3 separate regions of the Homo sapiens genome follow, and all the other regions are reported to be linked to region 1. The links are microRNA targets in miRTarBase. Many come from high-throughput screens and were not tested one by one. Region 1 holds a microRNA gene; each other region holds the end of a gene's coding sequence. Distances are from middle to middle.
The links. Region 1 holds the annotated microRNA hsa-miR-3130-5p (UACCCAGUCUCCGGUGCAGCC, at 2,437-2,457, opposite strand). A microRNA usually pairs through its seed, bases 2 to 8, with sites in the 3' UTR of a target mRNA and lowers its output. Matches are read on the target gene's strand: a 7mer-m8 pairs with bases 2 to 8, a 7mer-A1 pairs with bases 2 to 7 and ends in A, and an 8mer does both.

Region 1 (4,209 bases):
TGACCTGCTTCAAATTCTCCGATTCTCTTTTGCTTGCTGAAATATGCTGGTATGGCCCTCTAGTCAATTTTTCAGTTCAGTTATTATATTCTTTAGCTCCAGAATTGCTGTTTAGTTCTTTCTATAGTTTATCAATTCTTTGTTGATACTCTTATTTTGCTCATATATCATTTTCCTAATTTCATTTACTTTTCTGTGTTCTTATAAGACAATTATTTTTAGTTCTTTGTTGGGCAGTTCATAGATCTTCATCTCTTTAATGTTGATTACTGGACATTTATTTTGGTACTTTGATTGTGTTACATTTCCCTGATGCTCTTTCTTCCTTGTAGCTTTGCATTGGTGTCTGCACAATTAAAGAAACAGTCTCCTCTCCCTGTTTTTACAGACTGGCTTTGACAGGGAAAGACTCTTATTAATCAGCTTAGCCAGAGATTCTGGGGGCCTCTTAAACTTTTTCTATGATTTTTTTTTTTTTTTTTTTTTTTTTTTGAGACAGAGTTTTGATCTTTGTTGCCCAGGCTGGAGTGCAGTGGCACGATCTCGGCTTACTGCAACCTCTGCCTCCCAGGTTCAAGCGATTCTCCTGTCTCAGCCTCCCAAGTAGGTGGGATTACAGGCACCTGCCACCACGCCTGGCTAATTTTTGTAGTTTTGGTAGAGACGGGGTTTCACCATTTTGGCCAGGCTGGTCTACAACTCCTGACCTCAGGTGATCCACCCACCTTGGCCTCCCAAAGTGCTGGGATTACAGGCATGAGCCACCATGCCTGGCCTGAATGTGTTTATGGATTTCTAAGTAGAGGGATTTACTGGTTTCTTTTTTTTAATTTCTTTTTTTTTTTTTTTTTCCAGTATCAGGGAATGTCTTGCTCCCTCTGGTGTCTGACTGCTGTACTACAGTCGGGGACATAGATGCTCCTCTCCTTTCTCTCCTTCGCTGTAGAGAAGCCTTGAGTTGTGCTGTCTGCTGCAAGCCACTGACCCCTTTTTTTCCTACTTAACTGCTCCTGAGCATTCAAACTATGCTGGTTTCGTCCGCTCTCCTTGTGAGGTGAGATAGAAACCAGCTCCTTGGACAGCTCACCAAAAGGCTAGGATGTTGAAGACATGCTCCACTCCTCTCATTTCCTCCTGAGGCTGAATCCTCGGGTTGCGTACCTTCTCTCAATCTCTCAGAGCTGTGCTGAGTGCAGGAAGCTGTCCACCCCTTTTCCTTTGTTCTTAACTGCTCTCAGGCATCTGAACCCTGCTGGTTTTGTTAGTATTCCACGTGAGTTTAGACAGAAATCCAGCCCCTAGGGCAGCACAGTGAAAAGCCGGATGTTGGTTGCACACTCTACTCTCTCCCTCCAAGGGAGAAGTCCTAGGCCAAGGTGATCTCCTTGGTGCTGAGCTGTGCCGGCTTTGGGGAGGGGCTGACCTGGGTAAAATGTTCTTCTTGCCTGTTTCAGTGCAACTCTTCTTGGTTTTGTTCTTGTCTGGAGTACGACAATATCTTAATTGGTTTCTGGACTTTTCATAAAGGTATTTTTGTCTATATGTCCTTGCTAAATCAGTGTTTCTGAGAAGCTGTGAGAACTGGACCTTCTTCTAGTTCAGTTTTGACCTTAACTATTCATTTGGTCTCAAGCTACTGCTTTCTATTCTTTTCATTTTAACCACAGCCATGCATTCCTACTATTAAATACAGTAATTCCTCAAATGTGCCAGCTTCTTTCATACCTCTGCTTTCTACCCAGAACATCTTTTCTTACTCTTTGGATCAGTCAGGGTTCATTAAAAATCAGAAAAGCATATAAAATGTCATTTGTTAAAACAGTGATTAAAAGCATGGACTCTAGAGCTAGCTTGCTTAGGTTTGAGTTTCAGCATTGCCATTTGTTAGCTGCTTGACTTTTGGCAAATTACTTATCTGTGCCTCAGTTTATTCACTTATTAAAATGGAGATGAGCTATGTCTAATCTCATTGGGTTGTTATTAGAATTAAATGAGTTAATCTATGTCAAGTTCTTATGACAATGCCCAGCACATAGTAATTTTTAGATTTGAAAAAAATTAGAGTGTAGGTCACAGAGGCCTTGGGGGAACAAACTAGGGCAGTTGTGAAGGTCTCAGTGGCAAGATGCACAGGCCATCTGTTTGCCATCAAATGACTTGACTCCAGCTGCTTGCTTTCCTTTTAGTTTTCCCTCCAGATTTAGATTTCTGAAAGAGAACATCTGATTGACTGAGTTTGAGTCAAATGCCCATCCCTTAGGGGCAGTTAATCAATTAAGTGGTGTCAGGCCAACTAAAAAGCAGCTTCCCACTGTACTGTCCACTGAATGGACAGACTCAGCTCATACTGCATTTCCTGTGTCTTCCCTAATTGTCACCGTCAGAGTCCCTGTGCTTGTCATGTCTTACCCAGTCTCCGGTGCAGCCTTGACAACAGGCTGCACCGGAGACTGGGTAAGACATGACAAGTTGTGTCACATCATTTGTTGTGTCAGTAAGTCTGTCTCTGCTCCTCAGTTGGTAAGCTCTCCGGAGTCCGACCCAGCTGCCTGTTTTTCTGAACTTAGTACAGGACCTGCCAAAGAGTAGACATTTAATAAAGGTCGAAAAATATCTCCCAAATTCAATCTTCCTTTACTCCCCTGGCTTCATTTTCTTCTGAGGCTGGCTCCCATTGATGCCTTGTACTTTCTAGACAAATAATATCAAGCTAAGTGGTAATTAAAACTCCAGAAACAGCCCCAGAGGGATTAAGAGAGTAAGTACTGGGCGGGTAAGAGTTTTTCAGGTGACTCCAGGCAACCTGAGAGATAACTTGTTCCAACAAAATTGTTACATTGAAAATAGAGGGGGGATAACAAAGGTAACAAAGGCTGGGAGGACATTTAATAAAATGGCAGTAGTAGAATTAGTACAGGAGGAGAATCATGAATGTTGTCTTTTTGTCTGTCTATTCTGCTTTCATTTAACCTAGTGGTTTTCAAACAGGGATGATTTTGCCTCCCAGGGGACATTTGGCAAGGTATGGAGATGGTTTTTAGTTGCCACAACAGGAGGGAGGTCTGTGCTACTGGCCTCTAGTGGACAGAGGCCAGGGGTGCCGCTAACATCCTACTATGCAGAAGATAGCCCCTCACAATAAGGAATTATCCAGCCCCGGATGTTAGTAGTGCTGAGATTGAGAAACCCTTACCTAATTCTAAGCCTCCCACCTCAACATTTCTCCAAAGGAGAAGTAGGGGCAATATGGCAGATATAGCAAGATTAATTAGTCACCATTTCCTGAATGCCCATGAATGTACAATTGCCTGGATTTGGTATTTTGAAGGCTATAAAAAAAGAAGTTTGTATTCCCTGCTCTTCCTAGACCATTTATGAGAACAACTCTGTTGTATATCCAGAGGAAGGCAGTACATGGTAGGCACCAAGTAAGTGCTTTATGGAGGAAGGAGAAAGGAAGATGGCAACTTATCTGGAGTAGCAAAGGTTTTGGAAGCAGAATAACTCAAAGTATTTGGGAAGAGAGTTGACTAGAAGAGATGGTTAGATAGGAGAGTGGTAGGAATTCTGGCTTATTGTATACCCACATGCTATACATTAATCATTATTTCATTTATGATGGCCCATCGGGGAGAGGGTGTTAAATCCAGAGTATCTTGCTGGGCTTTGAACCCAAGGAACAAATATGTAACGTTTAAGCTCTGTTGTTTTGGTCCTTTGGTTTCTTCTCTTCTTGATCTGTATTTACCACCTTATGGATAATCCCACATTTGCATCTGTGGTCATTAGTGTGCTCCTTAACTCCAGACCTGAGTCTCTGTGGGTTGCATATGGTCACTGCACATCCCAGAAGTGTCTCAAGTTCAGTAATTCTGGAAGTCAGCTATTTTTCTTGACTCATCGTTTTCCAATGACAAGCTCGTCCTCCTGTCTTCCTCATCAAAGTTTATTTGTTCGTTTAGTCAGCATTTGCCAAGCACCTGGACACTTAGGAGAAAGATGAATAAGACAGTCCTTCTTGCCAGAGGATTCTGTGTAATGGGTAAGGTAGATATGTAAATTGGCAGTTAAATATAGCATGAAAATTCGAGTGATCTAGCATATTAGTCTGTTTTCACGCAGCTGATAAAGACATACCCGAGACTGGGCACTTTACAAAAGAAAGAGGTTTAATGGACTCACAGTTCCACATGGCTGGGGAGGCCCCAC
Region 2 (4,209 bases), not on the chromosome of region 1:
AATTTACTTTCATAGTCTTCTTTTAAATATTTAGGCTTTTAATCCATCTGGAGTATTTTGTGAGCATTTGAGATAGAGATCCAACTTGATATTTTTACCAATGGATACTCTTATCACTACATCGCGTTTATGAACAGCCCATCTTTCACCACTAATTTGAAATGACATTTTAATCATTTCTCATATAAGTCTGTTTCTTAAATTCTTTAGTCTGTTTTAATACTCTTACCTATTTCTATCCCCTATATATAATTTGAAACTATTATGTCTTTGTAATACATCCTAATATCTGATACAAATCTTTGTTATTTCTCAAGTTTGATAGGTACTGGTATTTTGTGTGTGTGTGTGTGTGTGTGTGAGAGACAGAGTTTTGCTCTTTTTGTCCAGGCTGGAGTGCAATGGCGCAATCTCGGCTCACTTCAACCTCCACCTCCTGGTTTCAAGTGATTCTCCTGCCTCAGCCTCCCAAGTAGCTGAGATTACAGGCACCCGCCACCACACCCGGCTAATTTTTTGTATTTTTAGTAGAGAGGGGGTTTTGCCATGTTGGCCAGGATAGTCTCGATCTCTTGACCTCGTGATGCACCTGCCTCGGCCTCCCAACGTGCTGGGATTACAGGCGTGAGCCACCACGCCCGGCCAGGTACTGGTTTTTCTTCAGGTGAGTTTTAAGATACTATCTATCTAAAAAATATAAAATCCTGATGAGACTTTGATGGAATTAAAGTTATAGATTAAAAATTAATGAAGTTTTTTGTTGGCATCGCTTCCTCTGGGACATCTTTATCCTTTTGTCACAACCATTTTCCTCATTTATGTAAATTGTGCCTTTACTGTTTCTCAGGTTGCCTATCTACTGTATCTCAAACAGCAGTAGTGTCAGCATTCCCAGGCAGGTAGTTCTTCTGTAATTCCATTTATGTTCAATTTGAATTTCACTTCCAGTGTTATTTTTTACTTCTCTGGTACACTTTGATCTTTATTAGCCAACTTCTACTTTTGATTATCCATTTTTGTATAATGTGGATTTACCACTGGGAGACAAGCAATCAACACAACTACATTTTGCCATCTGCAAGTAAAGTGAATAACAGATGTGAAGTAGCCAATCACAGACAGCCTTTGGAAGAAGTGATGTAACTGGTCCTCATCATGATGCATGTATGAATATCCTGTTACTGCTACCAATTCCACAAACTTACTAGCTCAAAACAATTCAAATAATTGTCTTGCAGTTCTAAAGGACAGAGGTCCAAAATGGTCTTAACTGGGCTAGAGTCAAGGTGTTGGCGGGGCTACATCCCTTCAAAAGGTTCTAGGAGAGAATCCATTTCCTTACCTTTTCCAATTTTTTGAGGGTTCCTGCATTCCTTGGCTCATGGCCCCTTCTTCCAACTTTAAAGCCAGCAGTGTAGCATCTTCAAATCTTTCTCTGTTTCTGTTGTCACATCTTCCCTGACTCTGACCATCTGCTTCCCTCTTATAAAGACCCTGGTGATTACAATGGAACCATTCAGATAATCCAGGATAATCCCCCACCTCAAGATCTCTAACTTAATCACATCAACAAGGTCCCTTTTGCCATGTAATATAATAGTTCACAGATTTTAGGAATTAGGATGTGAACTTTGGGGTGGGGGGCATTATTCTGCATAACACAATGTGCATTTCTTATTTACACAGTGGTTGTGGTTTGAAGAACTATCAGTGAAGTTTGAATTTCATGCAGTTACTCACAGTTAATATCCACTGGTAACTGAAATTTGAATTGTGTTGCAGGGGAGACTCATGTTATTAAGTAAACCATAGTAACTGGGATTTGTGCACATCTGAATCATGCAAAATGGGGATGGCCTGTTTCAGGTCCAGCTGACAGGTCAAACAGAATGAGAAAATGCATGTGACTACACATGCTGGGCCATGGCTGCAGAGAATGAGGCAGAAGGGACTTTTGCTTGCCCTCATGTTTGAAGAACACTCACAGGTAAACAGATTGAGCTTTCTCTTGTGCCAGATCTTTCAAGCCTACCAGAATACTGACAGCACTTCAGCTTCTGAGAAACATAGTACAGGTAAATATGGAAAAAGAAATAATGATATTCTTCCCTCTTACTGCTGCCATCTCTGCCTTTCTCACCCTGCCACCCCAAAAAAACTATGTCTAAGTCTCTTATGCATTAATACCCAACTACTGATAATGCATTACATTTTATAAAGCAACTATCTTTTTTCATTATTCTGATTAATAAACATAAAAGAGCTCTTCTGGTAACTGATTAAGAATATAATCAGTGTTTCCTATGAACAAGCTATGGAGTAACTAAATAAGGGACACTCTTAGACCAACTATAATTTTTAACAAAACAATTGTTGATATAAAGTTTCTCATAAATTCATTTTATTTCAACAGCAAAAAGATTAGCTCCATCCCTCTGATTGGGATCACAAAGTACAATCTTTTCAGCATGGGTTTTCTCACCATGCCACAAACAGAAAGAGGCACTAAGGGACTGATAAGGGGGTATTTTCTGTCTCTGGCAGTATTATATTGACCTGCAATAAAAACATCTGATCTTACAGAACAGGATACCTCTTGAAGAGGTATAGTTTATTTTATAATATGTAAGTATTCCAAATACATTCATTGTATGAATTAGGGAAGGAAAAGCAATAAGAAACATTTCATGAATATTCATTCCTACACTCCAACCATACCAAGTCTTACTACTTTATAGAATTCATAATTTATTAGCCAATACTATTTTAAAATACTATTTCCGTACTGTAAAATTGATATTAGAGGAAAAAAAGTCACACACGATGCCTACCACCACCAGGGTGAAACCAAATCTTTATCTGCCTATGGCTGCTGTCTGGGTCGATTGAGGCAGCAGCTTCATTTTCTTCATGGTTTACCCAGACAGATGTGGAACCAAAGTGCTAAGTGCATATTTCAAGCATCTGTTCTGAATATGTTTAAAGCCACAGTAAGTTACAAAAGGCAAATTCATAGATGCTCTTTGAAAGTGAATGTAACTATTATACTTGGTATTCTACTTCCCCCACGCCCCCAGAAGTTTTTGATGCTATAGACACTGATATATAGTTTGAAACTCTCACTATAAAATTACTAGGCTAAGTCTATCAAGACTTGAAAGTTTGTTTTGCTGAGGTAGGTGAAAGGGTAATCTCTGTTCTTTCCAGGTGACTGCATCTGCACAGGCTTCCCTGGGAGGACTTCATCAACAGCACAGTTACACATCAAAGTCCTTTAGCTCTCCCCAGCTGGCGCCTATTTTCACTTTCACTTTCAATTTCACAGACAGTTTTACAGCACTTTCCATTTCATTCTTGACAATCTGAGCTACCTAAGGAAAAAAAAAATGTAGTTAACAAACTGCCCAGTCAAAGAATGTTTCCCAAACCATCCCCTGAGAAAGTTATAAACCAGACTGGAGCTCTTCACCCAATGGTGCTTAAAATGCTAAATCAGAAAAAATAAAAAATAAAATAAATAAATGAATAAATAAAAAGACATCTCATACTCTTCTTCACTGATGAGCAGGAATTTCTGAAAGTTTTTGCTAGAATGCTTGGAGCTTAGAAACCCTAAGGGAAAGACTCCAAATTTTTGTTTAATTCCTCCAAGACAAAAACATCTTGCATTGGCAATTCTTCACTTATTAAGAACTAGTACAAAACGGAACACTCTTAGCTCCTTTTCTACCTGTAAGGACTCAATATTTATACAGCCATCCCAGGGCTAGGGTAGAGTTCCAAAATCCTCATGCACAGGAAACAAAGCTGTCGGCCTGACAATACAGTGTCTTGTCTTCCTATGGAATGGACACAAGCATTGCAAAAATACCTGAACAACATCTTCTTCTGCCACTTCATATAGGAGTTCATCATGGAGTTGAAGGATGAAGAAGCCTCCTCTGATTGGGCAGAACATCCCTTGCAGTTTTCTCTTTCGTGACAATCCTACTTCATGAAAAAGGAGCAAAACTGATCAGCATGTCGCTAAGTCATAGGAGAATGTTTTTAGAGATTCTGAGTAACTCTGAGGAATTTTAATGAGAAGATTAAAACACACAAGAATAAGAACTATCAGGAAAATAACTACTTGCTGGTCGCTACCTACCCTAAGTATCCGGTATAAACTCACAAACTTCCTCCTAGAAAGAAGGAGTCTCCCAAAGAAGT
Region 3 (4,209 bases), 8.1 Mb from region 1:
TAAAAATAAAAAATAATTAGCCAGCCTTGGAGGTGCACACCTGTAGTCCCAGCTACTCAGGGGGATGAGGTGGGAGGATCACTCGAGCCTGGGAGATCGAGGCTGCAGTGAGCTGTGATCTCTCCACTGCACTCCAGCCTGGGTAACAGAGCAAGACCTTGTCTAAAAAAAAAAAAAAAGAACAACAACAACAAGAACAACAAAACAAAAACAAAAAAGCAAGCACATTCTGTAGGTATTATCCAGAGTGGAAGTTCTGGGAACTGGGAATTCTCTAAACATTTCCTCTACTGCAGAGAAACCCAAAGGGATATGGGTTCAAATATTTGTTCATAGATGTTCCTTAATTACATATAAAAATGTGCCATGATACTCTTAAATAGTACATACTAACAGAAAAAAAGAGGAAGAAAAATAAATGTCCAAAAATGTGCAAAAACAAAACATAGCATTCTCATTCTAAAGAAGATACCCAAATCCTTCCATCGCAGTAGATTCATTGTAATATCTGTAATATGGGACTATGTATCATCTTTCTCTTTTCTTCCCTCAGAATAAACTACCTCATGGGAAACCTCACTGTATTTCAGAAATTTAAACAAAATCAGGTTGCTTGGTTTTCATATCAACCATGCCAGCCTCTCTTGTTTCTCCTTCATTTATTTACTCATTTAACCAACAAATACTTACTTATTGAGTGCCACGAATATTTATTGTGTATATAGGTACCAGTTGGAGAGCCAGGAAGATCAAAATAGATCTCTGTCCTCATGGAGTTTCAAGCCTAGTGAGACAGAGAAATACTAATCACTCAAATAATGGTGCTACTATCACGGTCCAGAGCCCAGCTGGGGCTTCCCTGCCCATTGAGAGGTAGATGAGATTGGCTGGAGTCCCTGATCCATGTCCTATGGTCAGAAGCTCTGCTCCACACATGTCCTGGCATCTCCCTGTCTCATGGTCTGACAGCTTCTGGGATGAAGCTGTCACTGTACTGCACCTCTTTCAAAAAAGGAATTAACATATCTTCATTCCAGTCTCCACAAGACACTCAGTCACACAGAGCATTTGTAAGCGTGTCTGACTTCAACGAAGATTCAGTGGTAACAGGGACCATCCACAGCATGGCTGCACAGTGAGTGAATATGCAAAAAGTATTTGAATACTCATAGTTTTAAACGTCCATTCAACCACTTCTCTTTCTCACTGGGCTTCCGTCTGTTTCAGTACTTAGCCTTCTGCCATCTCACTGGTTCCACCTTTCTCCATGTCCCTTGTGTCCTTTTCTTTTGCTTCCTTTCCTACCATTGCTCAGAAACAAGCAGACAACCAGCCAACCACAACAAAGACAATGAACAGCAAACAAATTCCTTTTATTCTTTCATGGAGCTCGGCTATCTATTTTGTCACTTGGGACCCTAGAGACACCCACGCTCTCAGAGTTATACCTTCTATCTACTCCAAAAGGCGTGTCTACATATTATATTCAGCAAAGACATTTTCCATCCTGAAAGAAATTGTGTTACCATCTGTTAAGGTACATATATATATATATATTTGTAGTTAAGTCAGTCAGTCTGGATATATTACAAATGATGATGCATGCTCTGACAGAAAAGTAGGAGGTTGGGAGGAACAACAAAGCATATAGTATTAGAACAGCAGACCAGATTTAAAATGAGAAAGCCGGGCAGTCTGGGTTCTCTAAGAAAGTATGACATTTCTGGAGCCTGTTAGCCAGGTAAAAAGTGTGGGGTGAAGAGCATTCCCAGCAGGAGAACAGCATGTGCAAAGGTTTGGAGATGGGGAAGACTGTGGAGCACTGGAAAAAGTGGGAAGGGGCCAGCATGGCTAGATCCCAAAGGGCCAAAGAGAGAGAAAGATGGGGATGAGGGTGGAGAGGCCAACAGGGGCCAGATCAAGTGAAACTTTGCAGGCCACATGACTCCCATTTTTAGGTTCCTGTCTCTTCCCTAACAAATGAAATGACAGCATGAATGAGTTTTTCTAAACTTTGAGTTTATTGGTTTTCGAGACAAACAGTCATGCCAAAGCTGACAAACTTGTATAGATACACACACATACACGCACACACGGTACATAAAGCACCTTTCCCCAGGGCCACGTCACTTGCCATTATTAAGAAGTCTATCCTATAGCCATATACACGATTCTGGGTCACCCAGATAATTAGCTGAAAATTATCTTCATATTCGTTTTCCCTCCACAGGAATGTTTCCTGAAAAGAAACCCCAAATATGAGGGTTTCTGAAAGAGCTTTAAAAAATGTTGCCTGCCAGTAGCACATGGATTCTCTTTTCAGGGTTTGTATCTACCCAGCTGACACACCCATTCCCCCCTCCCTTCCCCCCAGAGCAAGTGATTTCTTGTTCCACCCTGCAGCTTACTATTGGCAAGGCATGGCAGGAGTGAATCTAGGTTCCGTGTACCACCAGGGTAAATTGCCCTCTCTATTGCAGTCCTTATGGAAAGGCACTTTTTTTCGGGTTCAGCACGTCCCCATGCATTCACAGGTACCGAAAGTGACATACACATACATTGTAAACATTGTGCCCACTGCTCTGCAAACGTTCATTTGGCCCTTAGCAGTTCACACATCACAGCCGATTCATGTATTCATGATGATGTTCATTCTGTTGTTTTCTGGAAATAAATTATGTTGTCTGCTTGCCCGGTGGCACCTGCCACAAACCATCTGACTTTTCTTCTCCACTCTTATATTTCAACTACCAAAATCCATGCCTTTTAAACTGTCTTTTTATTGAAAGTAATAAATTAAGATATTCATCTTGAGGTGGCTTCACCTTTGCATAAGAATCACCAGCATATACATTAGCATGCTCACAGTGTTGAGTATACAGGAATTCATTTCAGTAGCAACAACACTCACTGACCTTAGAAGGAAAAATTTCCTTTTATAATTACTTGTTAGTCTAACACAGTTGTAACTTTCCATACAGTATATTACTTTACTTTAAAATGAAGATATCTTGCGGAAGTGTATCTTCTGTGGCTTTTCTTCAAAATGAAGCCATTGGTCACACGCTGAGATTGAGTTTGCTGGAAGTGTTAAGACTCCATCTGGTCATCTTGTGAGTCAACACTTATAGTGGAACCTTGGCTGCTGGTATCAGCAGTTTCATAGGACTTCTGGTCTTTGGCAAAGTTGATGAAAACCTGATTTTTCAGGGAAAATAAAGCCATTAATGCCTGGTAAGCCAAAGGAAAAAATAAAGTTAATTCATTCTCTCTCTCTCCCCTTCCTCTCTCCTAGTGCAAGCGTGTATATATGTGTATGCAGGCCCCTATAAAATCCAAATCCTAGTTTTATACATGCTTGCACTAGGAGTCCTTTCAGAAAATCAAATTTAACTGGGGCTTGAAAACAGCACCTATATCTATGACCATATTTATGACTATGATTTTATTTATAATCATGTCAATCTTAAGCCATAGTTGACTATCTGTAGCCACATTTCTGCATTCATATGACCTACATCAATATCTCTATCAGGTATAAACAAGGAGCCCAGCCCTGTGCCCTTATTGAATGGTTGTGTAGAAATGTTGAGAGAAATTTCACTAGTTTCAAGAGTTAATGCATTAAGATAAAATTTGTATAGAAAGCCCATGTTAACACTGTGTTCAGTAAGCCAATTACTTAACAGGCAGATCTTTTCACTTTGTTTAAAGTCATTAAATCTATTAGTCATAGTTTCATCCAAAAACTATCGAGAGTCTGTATTTTGCCATGGTGCTGGTAGTTGGTCATAAGTCGAAGACTAAGTCTTCATTTTCAGGAAAGTCATGATTGTCTAAAGCCCCCATTAAAATGCCTAAAGCCCCACAAGAAGAGTTGTACATCAAATGCAGCACCATATACTGACCCCTAAAGGCCTTACTTTCAGACCTAGTCCAATGACAGATATAATCAAACTTTCTATATGTCATGTTGGTTGAGCTGTGCAAAATTAAGACAGTACAGAAGTGATAAAGGATGACCTAATAAGTCTGTAGTTATTAAATGCAAATGTAATTAAGACAGATGATGTACGTTGAACGGAAAGGATTCTGCATTTACCACTTTAATTGCCTGAATTTAACAGATCTAAAGGTCTGACACCAAATTCTAATTACCCTGTCCAACCCTAATCCAGGAAGCCAATCAATAGAAATGTTCTTTAAGAA

Region 2: the mRNA of POLQ is a reported target of hsa-miR-3130-5p. Seed matches in the 3' UTR shown: 7mer-A1 at 2,917-2,923.
Region 3: miRTarBase lists ABCA12 as a target of hsa-miR-3130-5p. Seed matches in the 3' UTR shown: 7mer-A1 at 2,334-2,340.

Annotation. Positions count from the first base shown.
Region 1 is chr2:206,780,840-206,785,048 of GRCh38, forward strand. It overlaps MIR3130-1 (microRNA 3130-1), which reads right to left and starts at 2,469; the gene lies at 2,395-2,469. All of the region lies in intron 7 of FASTKD2 (FAST kinase domains 2), which reads left to right. It overlaps MIR3130-2 (microRNA 3130-2), which reads left to right and starts at 2,395; the gene lies at 2,395-2,469.
Region 2 is chr3:121,429,047-121,433,255 of GRCh38, forward strand. It overlaps POLQ (DNA polymerase theta), which reads right to left. Exons shown (of 30, transcript NM_199420.4): 29 at 3,872-3,987; 30 at 2,385-3,371. The coding sequence ends at 3,258. Among named protein-coding and RNA genes, the nearest start is that of POLQ, 110 kb to the right of the region's middle. RefSeq lists an enhancer at 3,213-3,262.
Region 3 is chr2:214,929,544-214,933,752 of GRCh38, forward strand. ABCA12 (ATP binding cassette subfamily A member 12) reads right to left here. Exons shown (of 53, transcript NM_173076.3): 53 at 1,999-3,198. The coding sequence ends at 3,091. All of the region lies in intron 2 of SNHG31 (small nucleolar RNA host gene 31), which reads left to right. Among named protein-coding and RNA genes, the nearest start is that of SNORA70I, 85 kb to the left of the region's middle.